Linked DNA regions of Homo sapiens: region 1 is linked to region 2. A link means that fine-mapping ties the variant in region 2 to the expression of a gene that starts in the linked region. Tissue or cell type: skeletal muscle. Region 2 holds a variant in brackets; the other region holds the start of a gene. All regions are shown on one strand. Distances are from middle to middle.

Evidence for each region. PIP is the estimated chance that this variant, and not a neighbour inherited with it, causes the effect.
Region 1: it holds the start of RAB38, and the variant in region 2 is fine-mapped to the expression of RAB38 in skeletal muscle (FUSION, PIP 0.95).

Annotation. Positions count from the first base shown.
Region 1 is chr11:88,170,542-88,178,727 of GRCh38, reverse strand. It overlaps RAB38 (RAB38, member RAS oncogene family), which reads left to right and starts at 3,285. Exons shown (of 3, transcript NM_022337.3): 1 at 3,285-3,545. The coding sequence starts at 3,344. It overlaps MIR3166 (microRNA 3166), which reads right to left and starts at 2,226; the gene lies at 2,135-2,226.
Region 2 is chr11:88,227,701-88,235,886 of GRCh38, reverse strand. No RefSeq gene overlaps it. Among named protein-coding and RNA genes, the nearest start is that of MIR3166, 55 kb to the right of the region's middle. The variant G/A (reference allele first, on the strand shown) is at 3,834.

The sequences.
Region 1 (8,186 bases), 57 kb after region 2:
GGTGACTAGAATCAGCTAGGGTGTCACTCCTACTAGACAATGTCTAGAAGACCCAGAATTCTGATATTTTAGAGTCCAAAGGACTTTCCAGAGATCTTGCAACCTAACTCCCTCATTTTACCCAAGGGACTTTCAGGTTCAGAGACCTAGGCGCCTTTTACGAAGATTTTACTGAACTGCTAGGCTGGGGTGCTTACCAAGCTACTGTAATCTAAAAGTCTTAAAAATATAAACCGAGAGTAATTTCTTCCCACTGTGAAGAATGATCATGAGACCTAAATGAGTACGGCTGGAAACAAAACTGCACATACTTCCTGCCTGGCCAAGGAACTTGCTCACCATGGTTGGCTGCTGTCCCTGAGAGAGGAATCTCCTACCCCCAGAGAGGCAATAAAACTGAAGCTTCAGGACCCCTTCCAAGGCCCTAGACCTAATTATATATTTTTGATTTTGCATTCTTTTGCTCAAAAAGCTACTTCCTCCAATTTTATCAGCTTCAGGACCAGAAATCCTGAACTTTGCCCTGCCTGTCCTACCTCATAAATCCAAATGTCTGATGTTCCAATATGCTCTTGCTCAAAAGAGAACAGATAAGGGTGAGGATGACTCTGCCGGGACCAGGCTTGGGAAAACAGTACGGGGCTGGTAAGAAAGTTGGGTTGGGTATAATTTTGAAGGCTGGCCCACAAGATGTCTCAAACTCCTACCTTGTTTCTACCCCAGGAGCTTGTTGGCCAGACAAAGCCTGTCTCTCAGATTTACAGACCCAGGATTTTAGAGCTGGCAAAGGTCTCATTTTGTCATCCTCCCTAATTTTGCAGGCATTTAGAATGGCTTAAGCATCTTGGGCTACTGAATTCCCCTCCCTGGGAAGTGAGGTGACATTGTTGGCTAATTCTTTAAGCAGGTAGAGTATTTGTCTCACTTGTTAGATGTGATCTTCTTGGTGTGTCCTCGCATGGGTGGAAACCAGTAAATGAGGCCTACCCAGCTAAGCACTTCAATAAAACACAAACGACTGCAATTCTACACACTGTCACTTAGTGTCCATTCTGAGCAAAACTTCTGAGTTACTCTCTGAGGAAAGATGAAACTGCACAGGACAGTGCCTGTGGACAGTATTTTAAGCTTGTCCCTCATTTCATAGTAATAGCTACAATTTATTTACCACCTACTATGGACCCAGCATTTTATCAACAATTTCATTTGTATTTATTTATTTATTTATTTATTTATTTATTTAGAGATAGAGTCTTGCTCAGGTTACCCAGGCTGGAGAGCAATGGTGTGATCTTGGCTCACTGCAACCTCTGCATCCCTGGTTCAAGATAGTCTCCTGTCTCAGCCTCTCAAGTAGCTGGGATTATAGTCACCTGCCACCACGCCCGGCTAATTTTTGTATTTTTAGTAGAGACGGGTTTCACCATGTTGGCCAGGCTGGTCTTGAACTCCTGACCTCAAGTGATTCACCCACCTCAGCCTCCCAAAGTGCTTGGATTACAATCATGAGCAACCATGCCCTGCCATAGGTATTATCATTCTCCTTTCGTTGATGTGGAAACCAAGGCTCAGAGGTTATGTGACTTGTCCCGGGTACACATCTTCAGCATCCCTCTGCTTGTTTGGGGCATGTGGAGGCTAAAGTTTAGGGAGTGTCAGGCCAGAAGAGGAAGGCAGAAAGACAATGGCCTTGCCAAACCTCCTTTCTCCCTTTCACACAGGCCTGTGTTTAAGTCCTAGTTCTAACACATACTAGTTATGTGTGCCCTTGAGAAAGCTGCTGTTAATCTTGGTTTCCTTATTTATAAATTGAAGAAAATAACCCACTTCATAAAGCAATTGAGAAGATGAAATGATAGAATGTGAGCAGAGCTCCTTCACAGCACATTCAGGTACAAAATAGCTCATTTTGGTATAAACTGCTCACCCCCTAGCCCTGAATGCCCAATTTCTCATTTTCTTTATGTCTTTACTAAATTGTCTCCATCTTACTGAAACCTTCCCTGGCCACCCTATCTAAAAGGCAAACCCCATATAATCTCTTCACATCCCCTTTCTGCCTTATTTTATTACCAATTAATATATGACAAATTGTATTTATTTTGTCTTGTCCTGTCTCCACCCACAAGAAGGTAAATTTTTCTTAGGCCAGTAGGCATTGTCTGCGTTAGGAGGATGATACAGAAATCCTAACGCAGACAATGCCTACTGGCCTCAAAAAAATTTACCTTCTTGTAGGTGGAGACAGACAAGACAAAATAAGTACAATTTGTCATATATTAATTGGTAATAAAATGTATATTGGTCAAATGAATGAAAACAAACAACAAAAACAACAAAAAGAAGTTGGGAACCTAAAGACCTATGTTTGAATTTGGTTTTTTTCCTTACTATTTGACTCTGGGTCCATTACTTAAAATGTCTGGTCCTTAGCTTCCTCATTTGTAAAATAGGAAGAAAAATGGTATCTATTATTAAGACAGCTGGGATGACTAAATGACATAATTTATAAACCCTCTGGCATATAGCGAGTGCTCAATAAATGTTTGCCATTATTATTATTTGTAATAATCTGACCGATTGTTAAAACTGTCTTTCTGTGCAGCTCTGAGTTTTTAGGATATGGGAAGAGGCTAAAAGTCACCAGTGCCCTTGGCATTTTCGGCCCAGTTGTCCTCCTTGTTAACTGATTACCAGTTGAATGGGTGTGAAAGTGCTCAGTGTTCCCACCTCCAAGCTGCTCAGAGGTCAGCATTGCCATTCATTGAGAAATAACAGGCTGTGAGAGCTCAAATGACTTACTTATGGTCCCTCAACTTAAAAACCAGGGCACGCAGGAACCAAGCCCAGCCAGTCTTGGGCTTCCTAATACTGTAATTTCTCTCTACAGTGTGGGGTAGTTAAGAGCCTGTGACTTCAGACCTGTGGTCAACGGGGCCTTTCACCGGCCATCTCCCGCAGAGTACTTTTTCACAATCAGTTTTCTCGCAAGCAAAACGTGGAAAATAAGATCCACACCTCACAAGTTTGTGGCCAGGGTCACAGGTGAAAACAGCTCTTCGGAAACTCTAAAGCGCCGGATAAATAAGCGCTGCAACAGGCAACCACACGCGAACCCCTTTCAGCTGCCAGTCCCGGGACTCGCTCCTGTCTCCTCCCCTCTCCAAGACCGCGGAGTAGGAAGGAGGATTAACCCCTAGGGGAGGAGTTCCGCCCCCCAGCCCCCGCCCCGCCGCCCACGCCTCTCTCTGCACCTACACTTGCGCTCCCCAAGTCTCTCTCGTGCGCAGAGCCCAGGCTGCGCTTCCCTGGTCAGGCACGGCACGTCTGGCCGGCCGCCAGGATGCAGGCCCCGCACAAGGAGCACCTGTACAAGTTGCTGGTGATTGGCGACCTGGGCGTGGGGAAGACCAGTATCATCAAGCGCTACGTGCACCAGAACTTCTCTTCGCACTACCGGGCCACAATCGGCGTGGACTTCGCGCTCAAGGTGCTCCACTGGGACCCGGAGACTGTGGTGCGCCTGCAGCTCTGGGATATCGCAGGTGAGCGCGGGGGGAGGGGGTCAGGGGGATAGAGCGCCTCGCGGCCGGTTTCCAGTCTCGAGGCAGCGGCTTGCGGCCAAGCGTGAGATTAAAATCACTAGGTCGCGAGGCAGTTTTTCCTGGTGGGCTGGAAACTTAGTTTCAAAGAAAAGAAAAACGTCTGAAACTTCAAGTGCATTCCCTGGCGCTTTTGGGCTATTGCTTTAGCTCCTTCCCGCACAGTCCCCTGGGATCTCTCTGCCCAGAGCAGGCCTCCCCAGGGAACCAGAGGAAGATTGTCTGCAATTGCATTCTGTTCTCCACTCCAGCTCGTTTTCTGGGCGCGGGCAGTTCTGCCAATGACGCAGCCCAGTGTCACGCACGTCCTTCCGTGCAGGGGCGGACCGAGGGGAAGCCCCTAGGCTGGTTCACAGAGGAAACCGGGATAGTTCCAGGCTAGCTGGAGTTTGCCCATTCCTGTCTTCAGTGGCTCACTTTATTTCAAATTTTGTCACCTTTCTCTCTGCCCTTAAGACAAAGGAGTTTGAGGGTTTTTGTTTTGTTTTTTTTTTTTTTTTTTTTTGCTTTTTGCTTACAGTAAGCCAAGTACTTTTGTGTGTATATGTCAGGGGCAAAGTATTCTTTCTCCCTCTCTTTCTGTATTTCTATCTCTCTGGCTCTCTGTCTTCTATGAAAAGGAGGTTGTGTGTATATTTTAAGGCCATTTTTATGTAAGGGCCTATGATAGCCTTATGATTTCTTGATTTGGCCCTAAAGTTTTCATTGAGAGATCTGAAAAATGAGAGGTTGTTTGTTTTTGTTTTTTACAATATTTAAAATCAGATTTTGACTCCACAGGTTTGTACCAGAAGTTAGGCCTAGTCAAAAGTGAGGGTGCAATGTATCTACTCCAAGTGTGAATCCTTGGACAAGGCTGTTTGCAACCTGCGCATGACCAACCCCTCATTACAGATTTTAGCCCTGCCACTAACTAACCTGCTCAGTGGCTTTGGACAAGTCTCTTCAGCTCAGTTGCATCGCTGTTAAGTGGAAAGGAGTTGGGCAAGGGTCAAGGATCTTCCTGCTCAGAAGTTTTAAAGTCCTCTGGGATTCTCCATGGGAACAACTTCAAACAGTCTTATTTCATGGTCTGTGACACCAGGAACCTTTCGTTATAAGTGCTGGACCCAAACTAGCCACTTCTGTTTCAGAAAATGGATTCATTTTAGCTGATGCATTTGATTGGAAACTCTTTATCATGGCTTGAAACTAGAACAAATGTGGAAAATTTTTGAAAGGGCATTTGTGATCTGGGGACTTTCGTGCCTCTTTAATCATGAACTGCCAGGCCTTTTTCTTTTAGCATGTGAACAGATGAACAGATTCATGCATTTGGAGTCATCTTCAGCTGCTCTAGTAGCAAGGGGGTTATCAGAGAACAGAAAATGTTATCAGCCACTGTTGGATGGGGCTTTTCATCTAAAAAAATTCTCTCTGTGTACTTTCTTGCTGCATGTCATAATGTCTGAAAACCCTTCTGGCTGCTCGAAAGTCCTCAGGATTCAGATTTAGAAACGGCTTACTGTTTAAACGGGGATGTAGCTGTAATTTGGACTTCTGTGTACAATCCAGGTAACAGCATGACAGCAGAGAAGTTCTATGTCTGTAGATTTCAGTCTCCTCACATAAACAGAAGAGATGGAAGGGTACAGTGATTAATAGCCCAAATTCCAGAGTTGAACTGCCTCCATCTGGATCCTTACTTTACTCTGCATGTAGTAGGCAATCTTAGGTAAGTTCTCTAACCTCCTTGTTTTGGTTTCCTTACTTGTAAACAGGGAGAATGCTTTCTCCCAATAGATGACAGGTGAGCAACCAACAGTGCTAGCTGAAGGTGATCATGCCTGTTCTCTAGGAGATCTGCAAGGATTATTATCACACTAGCTACCATTTTTTTAAGCCTATATAAATGCTAGGCAAGAAGGATATGATATACAAGTGCTTATTAATTCCTAATAAATTGTGATCCCAATATTACATATATATTTTGTCCCCAAGTTATCACCATTTTCAGCTTTGCTCCTGACATACTCTCAGGAGCAATTTAACTCCCAAGCTCGAAAGCACTTCGTTAGCCATGTTTTGTAGACTGAAGTTGCAGTGGAGGCTGTAGTCACAGAAGTCTGTATAAATAAGAAATCTGAAGTCTTGGGAAGTTCATTCTACAGATACTGCGGTGGTGTTACATTCAACATCTCAGTAGAGGAGCTTGTTTTTCCCAGAGCTCTAATGCTCAGTGGTAACCTGTCTTTAGCAGCCTTAAGCCCAAAGGCCCTGTTAGCTGAATTATAGATTGGACAGCAGGCACAGTGAATTGGGTGAAAGCTAGGCCACTGTAGGAAATGGTTGGAACATGCACGTGCTCCATGTTTCATGGTTTAAGCTGCATAGGGAGCCATGTGGGTTATGAGTTCATGTGAAATACAACCTCAACTGCCCACCCAGACTCCAGTCAGCCAGGTGTACCTTATAGTACTTTCAAATCACAGCCTGTCTGTCCACAGATAAGAATGCATCTCTCCGTCCTTAGTGTTCAACTCTGGTGTGTCCCCGGAGAGAGCAGGTAGTGGAGGTTAGTGGGCCTAGCTTTGAGAAGGTTGTGGGTGTTCAATGAGATAGAGAAGACCTGCACTGTTCTGATAGGATATCATATACATTTGTTATTAAGGGAATCTTGGCTCAGCTAGACTCTTGATACTCATTTGGTTCAATGCCAAATAGGGCCCTTTTTAATCTACTAAATTCCCATGATGTGTCTCTTATAGCCATGTAGATTGGCCAGTCTGATCTTGAAAGACTCCAAAAAGTATCTCTGGGGTCTTGTGAAGTAGGCCTTGAAACAAGATGATAAATCCCACCAAACCCCATAGGGGACAGCAGTTGGCCTGGATTCCAGTGATTCCATGCTAGAAGGTCAGCTGTGTGTTCAGAGGCTCCTGATAGAGTCAAAGAAATGAAGTAACTTTGCCTGAGGCCACCCAGCTAGTAGAGGAAGAGCCAGATTTGACCCGGTTCCGTTTCACTCAGAGTCAAGCCTTGCTGTTTGCACTTGCTGGCCTGTGAGTGCCTGGCACACAGCTGGCCCACAGGGATTATGCCTTCTTTTTAAAGGTGTTGTTTCATTAGTAGGTGGGTTAAACTTACCTTCTCCTTTCTAACTGGATTTTTGGTATTATTAAGTACCACTGTGCATTCAGTGAAAAGGAATGAATTAAAATCTATTTCTGAAAATTTTATCTTGATTAGGATGTGAATTTATAGAGTTTTTAAAAAAATAGGTCATTTAGGGAAAATGAAAACAAAAAGTTCACACTTGAGACTCCACTTTTTTATTACTCTCCAAATCCAGAGACTATAATTGCTCATTCACCCTTTCAAAAAGAACTGTACTATCTTGTCTAGAACTCTTGATGTGCTTTGGGACTCTGATCTAGGCATTGGGACATTTATAGGGATAGTAGCTAATATTTCTTAAGCCCTTATTCTTATGAATGTCCAGGCATATTTAATCTATAATTTCCCAGTATAATAGCTGGTTAGGCCACTAGAATTTAAAATTGACCATTGAATCTGTTTTCAAAAGATTTGCTCTACTGTCCTTAATTTGAAAACAGAGCACTTCAGACATAGTTTAAATATATTCTAAATTTAGATACTCTGAAAATATAATTAGGCAAACTGTGAAACCTTGCTGAACCTCAATTGCCTCATCTATAAAATGATGATTATTTAATTTTCCTGTGATACTTATTTTATCTTTTGTAGTCTCTGTAAGCAAAAGGTTTATTATCACTGTCCTCAGGGTATAGGTAGCACATGGTCATTTATTCCAGCTTCTTTACTTACTAGCTTTGTGACTTGTGTGAGTTACTTAGCCTCTGTGCCTTCGTTTTCTGTCTGTAAAATGGGAATAATAACAATACCTGCATCTTAGTATTTTTGTAAGAATTAAATGAGTTAATTTATGCAAAGCTGTGCCTGACACATAATAAATGCTGAATGAGTGTTAGCTATTATTCCTGTTGTCATAATTGTTATTATTACAGACTGTTTTCACATACATTTTCCCACTTGATCTCCCCAGCATTGCTGAGGGTGTAGACAAGCAGATAGTCCTAAACCCAATTTTATTTAAAAAGATAAAAAATGAGAGAGGTAAGAGAGTTGCCTGAGATCATAAGTGGCAGAGGAGAATAGGAACAGTCGGTCTGTTTAGCTTCAGCTTACTTGTATGAGTGAGATAACCAAGTCTGTTGGTAATAAAAAAACCCAATCCAGTTTTATATTGCTATAGTGGAAAATAAATTAAGTTGGCAGACAATTTAGAGAGTGTTTCGAGTGTTTCTTTGCTATGTAAAAGTTTGACTGCAGAGCTCTGCTAAATAACAAATGCCTCTAAATACTTAAAATAAGATCTACCCTATAAGAAAAATATTTCCACTCAAGGCACATCTATACCAGCTTCCCCCACCTAAGCCATGTGACATGACAGCAGAAGAATACATTAACTGTCCCATAGACAAAGTAACAGGATGAAGGCAGCCCAGGCCCAGTGTCAGGAGTCCTTAAACTGACTCTTCACACCAGCAACTCTGACACTTA
Region 2 (8,186 bases):
TGACAAAATTGTGAGCAAGATTTAAGGGCATAAACATTTGTAGAAAGAAGCTTGCAATGAAGAATTCTCTAAACCATTTAGGTAGCATACAACTTTTTTTCTATTTTCTTACTTTTGGTGGTGGTTCTGTATTATTATGTGTTTTAGGCAAAATATTTATTCTCATATATATCAGAATAAATTTAACCAGCATATCAGACCTGTGATTTTATGGAGGATATTGCTAAACAACATCTAACTTTAATCATTTAAAAAAGTAATAGTCTGGATAATACTTAATATTAACAAAGATTATGGCTGTGATACATGAATATTTGGAAGCAATGGCTGATCTCAAATTTCAAGAATAGGACTGACTCTTCCTGGATTTCTTAAGTTAATTCTAGTTAATTTTCTGGGAAGAGTTAAAGTTTGTCATTTTATATTATTTTTAACCTCAGTCAACTGGAAACAGTCTTTACCATCAGAATTTGAGTTTGTGCAGTCCTTAGACATCTCCTCTCTATTCAGTACTCCACTCTACAAAGTACCTACTATGTATGTACAAGGAGCTTATATATACTGTAACATTAGATTATCATATTTAGTTTTTATGTTGAACCAGTAAGAAATGCATTAATATTCCTGTTTTGGAGATGAGGAAATTAAGGAGCAAAAATGTTGTATAAACTTTCAAAATCGTGTAGCTAATAAATAATGAAGCTAAGATTTATATGAAAATCTAAATCAAATGTCCACGTTCTTAGCACAGTATACTCTGCCTCCTCACCAGCAAATCCTATGGAATTACCAGGAGTTAGAAATCAGTATGTTATAGCTGACATGAAAAAAAAAAATTCACCTGAGAGTAAATTCAGGACCGTATACATAAGAAGAGAAACGACATTTAGTAATAGCCCTTAAATTTGCATCACACTTTATTGTTTGCAAGCCTGTCATGTATCACACCTTCATAATACCTCACATGGGGTGGAAATGTGGGCATGGGTTACTATTCCCATTTTAGATGAAGAAACAGAATTTTCTTAGGAAAATTACAGCAACTTGGCCAAGGTTACAGCCTAATTTAAGGCAGATTGAGAAGCAGAATCCAGGATCCGACATTGTGAGGTCTTTCTATGCATGGAGCAACTTCTAACAGGCTTGTACTTTAGTAGAAAGCAGGGCTGGAGACACTGTTGGAGTAGCCACCCCAGACAGATTTCACAGCCAAGAAGACAAGACAGAGGATTTGCACACAAACTATACCAGGCCTCATAGTCGGTTTTTTGTTGGTGGAATTTCAAACATCTCACCTACTGCTTATGTATATCGTTTCATTTATTGATCTGTTTCATTGTTGATCCATTAATCTATCCATCCATCCATCCATCCATTCTTCATCGTCGTTGTCATCATCATCATTGACATTATTATTACTACTATTGAATAGCTACTTTATGAAGGTACTATGCTAGGATATGAAGTTATAAAGTCAAACAAGACCAGATCTCTGCTTTTAAGGATCTCATAGACCAAAGGAATAGATAAATATGAACAAATATTTGTATTATAAAATGGCAAATCTAAAGGAGGGGCAGGAAAAGAGTACACAGACTTAAGGATGGAACAAGCAACCACTGGGGAGTGAGAGTGTAATGTAGGGAAGGCCCCAGGATGGAGGACATACCTAAAAGGTAAGTAGTTTGAGGTAACTAAGTGGAAAGGATTTTTCTGAGGGGAAGCTTGTACTAAGGCACAGAGCTACAGCATATTTTGGTTTGTTTAGAAAAATGCATGTGTTCCTTAATTATTGGTGAGAAAAGTGTAAGAAAAGGAGGGTAGGTAGTAAGCAGGCAGGGATAGTCCAGAGTCAGAGCAAATCTCACAGCAGGAGGGACTCCAGGAACCAGGAGAACCAATTCTAGAGGTGCAAAGCTCAGTTTGAATGGGTATTATCAAAGAGAAAGTAGGAAATGTGGCAATATTGTGTGTGTGTGTGTGTGTGTGTGTGTGTGTGTGTGTGTGTGTGATGTCAGGGCTCTAGATACTGAGAATGGATAGGGAGGAGGAAAACGGTGTCAAAGGGTGTCATCTCAGACTTATCACAAGGTAGAAAGAAAAGTTGCCGGCTTTTTCAGAATTCTTAAGTATTTTTATATTAACTTCTGTCCCGTCTCCTTAATACTCTTCTTTAAGTTTTAAAATAATGTAACTACATATGGAAAAGAAGAGAAAGAAGGATATATACACACACATATCACCTATCATTTTGTTCTACAGCATTCACTGTTTTAGCAACAATATTGTGTATTTTTCTCCTGTTTTGTTTTTATGTCTGTTGTTAGAAAATTAAAGGTAAAAGAAAACAATTCTATATAATACGCCACTATGAGAAATTTTTGCCAGTTATTTCTTTAAAAATGAAAAAGAGGTAGAATACAGGGCCTAATAGTGACCCTAAGTGTGTAGTGGTTCGAATGACAGGCTTTGGAGCCAAAAAAGATCAAATACAGAATTCCAGCTCTGACATTTACCCGTTGTACAATTTATTTTTTGTTGTTCTTAACTTTTTTTTCTGAAACATTGGAATAATATTACCCAACTCACAGATTTGGTTGCAATAAATAGTAAGTTAATTCTTATATCCTTTTCTGTAAAGGTTGTAAGACATTTCTTTCCCTTTTTTTTATAAAAGTGATTTATGTTTTTATTTTGAATTTACAAATTTAGCAATGAAAATTCTAGAAGTTTAATTAATCTTTATATATGGAGCACCTCTATTTCTAGCTACTCTACCTTTTGTATAAATATATTAACTGACACAAAAGCTTTCTATCAGAAGACCAGATTTTTTCAGCTGTGAGGATAAAGTCTCATTTAGTGTTCTTTTAAAGGTAAATCTAGCTGGGAGGAATGAGATAGCATAGAAAAAGCTAACTGTTTTAAACAATTTTTGAACAGCGTTATTTTCAACAATATAACCATCCTTATTTGTTGTATCATTTCTATTTTTGAGATTGCTGCATGCAATTGTGAGATTCCCTTCTAGGACAGTGGCATGGTAGCAGGTTGTCATTGTGTAAAAGGGGTTATGATAGAACTGAAGGGACAGCAAAGCTATCAATGATCGTCTGTCATAATCAGTTTTTTTCTTACAATCATCTCATCTCAAGACCCCATAACTCCGCACTCTGATTGTGCCCATTAGGCACAGCAGATGGTACCATTTTACTCCGTGGAAGCAGTGAGCAGAAAACTTGCCTCCGACCACAACATTTGTGAGCAGAAAAACTAGACAGCCTTTTCCCCTCAGTATGCCCAAGCCCTGGCATTTAGTTGCAGTAGGCAAGTGATGTAAAAACCCTTTGATGATCTAGAAGAGGAAACATAGATACTTTTATTCTAATGCACACTGTTGTGAGCCTTGACTATGAAGCACACTTCCTCTGGCTGAGAGTGTGTGTTCACAAGCTAATTAACGTTTTCCAACCCTGCTTTGTCTTGCCATAGAAAAGATGGATCAGATATTTCTCCTGATTTTATGTAAGCTGTACATCTTTTCTGTTTATAACCATGGAAGAAAAACAATAACTGTGGCAAATGCAAAGACCTACGGCAATACACACTCTGGGTGCTGATTTGGGGCATGTTACTAAATCAATGTGTGACCTAGGCAATTCTCTTCCTTAGCTAGTTCTCAGATTTCTCCTCTGTGAGAATGAAGGGGTAGGATCACTGATTTGCTTCATCCTTTCCAGCATCAGCATCCGATGGACTAAAGTGATTAATGTTGGGCCTGTGGCAAGCGCAGATTTTATGGGGTTCCACCTAGTGGCTTTGCTCCATATTAC[G/A]GTTCTAAGTGAGTATGGCATGGTTGTATAGAATAGAGGCTTTTGAGGCTACAGACCTTGCTCTGAGTCCTGACTTTGTGCTCAATATCCAAGTAAACTTGGGCAGCTTCTTAGCTCTTTGTGATTTGTTTGCTTTTCTATAAAAATGGAAAATAATACCTATTATATAAGGTGGTTATGAAGATTAAATGTTAGCACAAAACACAGGAATAAAAGTGAGGGCAGCATTATTAGATTCTAGGGAAATTAAAGTGACAGTTAAAAATAGTGACAACTGGCTGGTAGATGGGGACCTGCTCTGGGTGCATATCCATGAAACTCACTGTGCATCATATAAAGATGGCCAGCTAGACATAGGTAATATGTGCCTCCTCCTAGGAGAGGAACCAGGATAGTAAGTAGATATCAGAATAGTTGGCAGATACTCACATTTTAAACAGATCATATAGGGCACAATGCTAGGATTCCCCAGAGCAGTGACAAGAAGCACCCGAAATAGGTAAAGAGAGAGCAAGACAGCTTGCCCAGCCAGGAACCAGCTAAAAGTTAGGAGAGCCTCCTGGACATGGGGAAATAGTAAAAGAGAAACCCCCGGGGTTCCAAAATCAGCTTTTACTATCATGGCCACCAAAGAAACCCTTAACTCGTTAGGGCCTTGGGCTTGACATACAGAGCTGGCTAAAGATTGCAAAGAGATGTTTCTCCAGAAAGAGAACCCATGCAAAATTTCACAGGCACCTGAGCTTGGAGCAGCCTCAGCTGGGAGCTATCTTGAGAGCCTAGATACTGGAGATCTACAAACATGGCTGGGGCTACTGCACTGCTCCAACAAGAGAAAGAAGAGGCTGGGCACTCCCATGCACCCCTAGGAGGGTGCTTGCTGCCCTGCTGTGGGCTGCTGTGAGACTGAGATGTAAGTGGACCATATTCCCCATAGCTTCTTGCCCATACTGCTAGACTGGAAGGTACTCTGCCCACCCTGGGTCCCAGGCCCAGGGTGAGTGCCATTTTGAGAGTTTAAGGCTGAGCCATATGTCACCTTAGGCCTGAGTTCAGGCTGATGTGGTTGTAGCTGCCATCTGGCCAAGGAGGAACAAGAAGACAAAGGTATCCTATGTATATCTAAGACAATATTTACTTCCCTGCAACAGGCTGCTGTGAGATTGAGACACAAGTGGACTGTATTCTCCACAGCTTCATGCCCACACTGCCTGCATGGGAGGAGACCCACCCTCCCTGACTATAGACTCAAGGTGCCATTTTGAGAGTTTAATGCTTGGTTGTCCCCTGCCCTTGAGATGAGTTTGACTTGACATGGCTTCAGCTAATGCCCAGTTAAAGAGGTATAGGAAAGCCAGGCTTCCCAATGCACATCTAGGTCAATACCCAGTACCCTACTACGGGCTGCTGTAAGACCAAGACTCAAGTAAACTGCTTTTCCCATAGCTTCTTGCCCATGCTTCTTGCCTGAAGGGACCTTACACTCCCTGGTCACAGGCCCAGAGTGCCATTCTGAGAACTTAATACTGGGCTGTGCCCCAACCTTGGGCCAAGTTTGAGGTGACATAGTTGCAGCTGCCACCCAGCTGGGAAAGGGATAAGTGAGACAAAGCTCTCCTAAGCACAGTTAGGACAATGCTTACTGCCCTGCTACAGGTGGCTGTGGGACTGGAGACTAGCCCACCCAACCCATCACAGCTTCCAGCAACAACAACATGCGTTGCTTGGGTCCCAGTGGGTTGCACCACCATTGCTACTACCATCACCCATACCACATTAGCTACCAAGGGTCCTAAGAACCCACCCACACACTGGGACCACTGCTCTTACTATTAATTTCTAAGCAAGCCACGTGAAGGCTCAAGAATCAGTCCTCCCAGACTCACAAACACTAGAGCCAGTGTAAGTTGCTCTGGGGCCTGAAAGGACCCCACTGCTACTACCACCAGAGCCTGAAGACTGATTTAGTTGGTGTCCAGGTCACTAGCTTAATTCCACCACAAACTCAACTATTAGCTGTACCCTTAGTCACTGAGGAAATCACAGAGACCACTGCCCTGTGTACTGCCAAAATATTCATACAAAGATCACACTACCATGAGCACCCAAAATCAAAGCCACAGTATCTTAACTGAATCAACAACATATACACATCCTCAGGAAAAAATTCTCCCCTATGAAAGCAATTTCAAAAACTTGGAAAAAGTGACTGCTATACAAGATGCACCAAAATCAATGGAGGGACACAGGAAACATGAAAAATCAGGGAAATATGATACCATCAAAGGACCAAAATTATCCAATAACAGATCCCAATCAAAAATAATTCCTCTTTAAAAGTTCAGATAAAGAATTCAAAATACTGATCTTAAAGAATCTCAATGAGATGCAAGATAAACCTGAAAATCAATACAAAGAAATCAGAAAATCAATCCAGGATATTAATGAGAAATTTACCAAGGAGATGAACATCATAAAAACAAATAGAATAGAAATTCTGGAATTAAAAAATTCATTGAAAGAAATAAAAAATATATCCAAAAGTTTCAATAATAGACTAGACCAAGAAGAAGCATCTCAGAACTTGAAGACAAGACTTTCAAAATAATCCTGTCAGACAAAAATAAGAGAAACAGAATAAAAAATGAATGAACAAAGCTTTCAGACATCTGGGACCAGATAAAGTGACCAAATTTACTAATTATTGGTATTGCCAAAAGTGAAGAGGGATCAAAAAGTTTAGAAAACATATTTAAGAAAATAATGAAAATTTCTCATCTATCAAGAAAGTTAGGCATCTAGATACAGGGGACACAGCAACCCCAAGGAAAATACATTGCACAAAGGACCTCACCATGGCATATTATACTCAGAATGTCTAAAGTCCAAGTGAAATAAAGAGTTTTAAAATTAGCAAGAGAAAAATATCAAGTCAACTATAAAGGAAATCCCATCAAACTAACTGTGGACTCTTCAGCAAAAGTATTACAGGCCAGAAGAGAATGAGATGGCACTTTCAAAATACTGAAAGAAAAACTTCCAGCCAATGATTTTGTATCCTGCCAGAATAAGCTTTATAAATGAAGGATAATTTAAGTCATTCTCAGACAAGAAAGAACTGAGAAAACTTGCCACTACTAGACTCTAGACTAGACCTATAGTAAATGCTCAAAGAGTCCTTAAGCAAGAAATGAAAGGTTAATATTCACCACCATGAAAACACATGGCAATATACAACTTACAGTTTGTATAAAACAATCACACAAAAGAGGAATAGAAAGATGTCAAAGATACCACAGAATTTCATTAAACCACAAAGACAAAAAGAAAAAAAAAGAATTGTTTAAAACAACTTGAAATCAATCAATAATAAGCCAGAAACAAAGCCTCACATATCAATATTAACCTTGAATGTAAATGAATAAAATGCTGCACTTAAAAGATAAAGATTGGCAGAATAGACAAAAAGCCCACAATCCAACTATATGGTACAAGAAATTCACCTTGCTGAATTAGACTGAAAGTAAAGGGATGAAAACTATATGGTACAAGAAATTCACCTTACTGAATTAGACGGAAAGTAAAGGGGTGAAAAAAGATATTCTACACAAACCAACCAAAAGTGAGTAGGAGTAGCTATGCTTATATCAGATAAAGCAGACTTTAAATCAAAAACAGTAAAGAAAGAAGATGAAGGAGGCCATTATGTAATGATAAAGGGATCAATTCAGCAAGAGGATATAACGATCCTAAGTATATATGCATACAACATTGGAGCACCTATATTTACCAAACAAATATTACTAGACCAAAAGAAAGAGACAGACAGCAATGCAATAACAGTAGAGAGTTTTAATATCCCACTAACAGCACTAGACAGATCATTGAGGTAGAAACTTAACAAAGAAACATTGGCCTTAAATTGGACTTCAGAACAAATTGACTTAATAGACATTTATAAAACATTCTACCTAATAAATAGAGAATATGCATTATTTTCACAATCGCATGGAATATTCTCTAAGATAGACCAAATATTAGGCCAAAAATAAGTATTAACAGATTGTAAAAAATCAAAATCATATCAAGTACTTACTCAGATTACACTGGAATAAAGTCAGAAATCAATGCCAACGCAGTCTGGTAAATATACACGTACATGGAAATTAAACGGCATGCCTGAATGATCACTGTGTCAATGAAGAGGTATAGTTGGAAATTTAAAAATTTTTTGAAGTAAATGAAAATGGAAACACAACATACCAAAACCTGTGGGATACAGCAAAAGCAGTGCTAAGAGGAAAGTTTATAGCATTAAAAGCCTACATCAAAAAAGTAGAAAGATCACAAGTT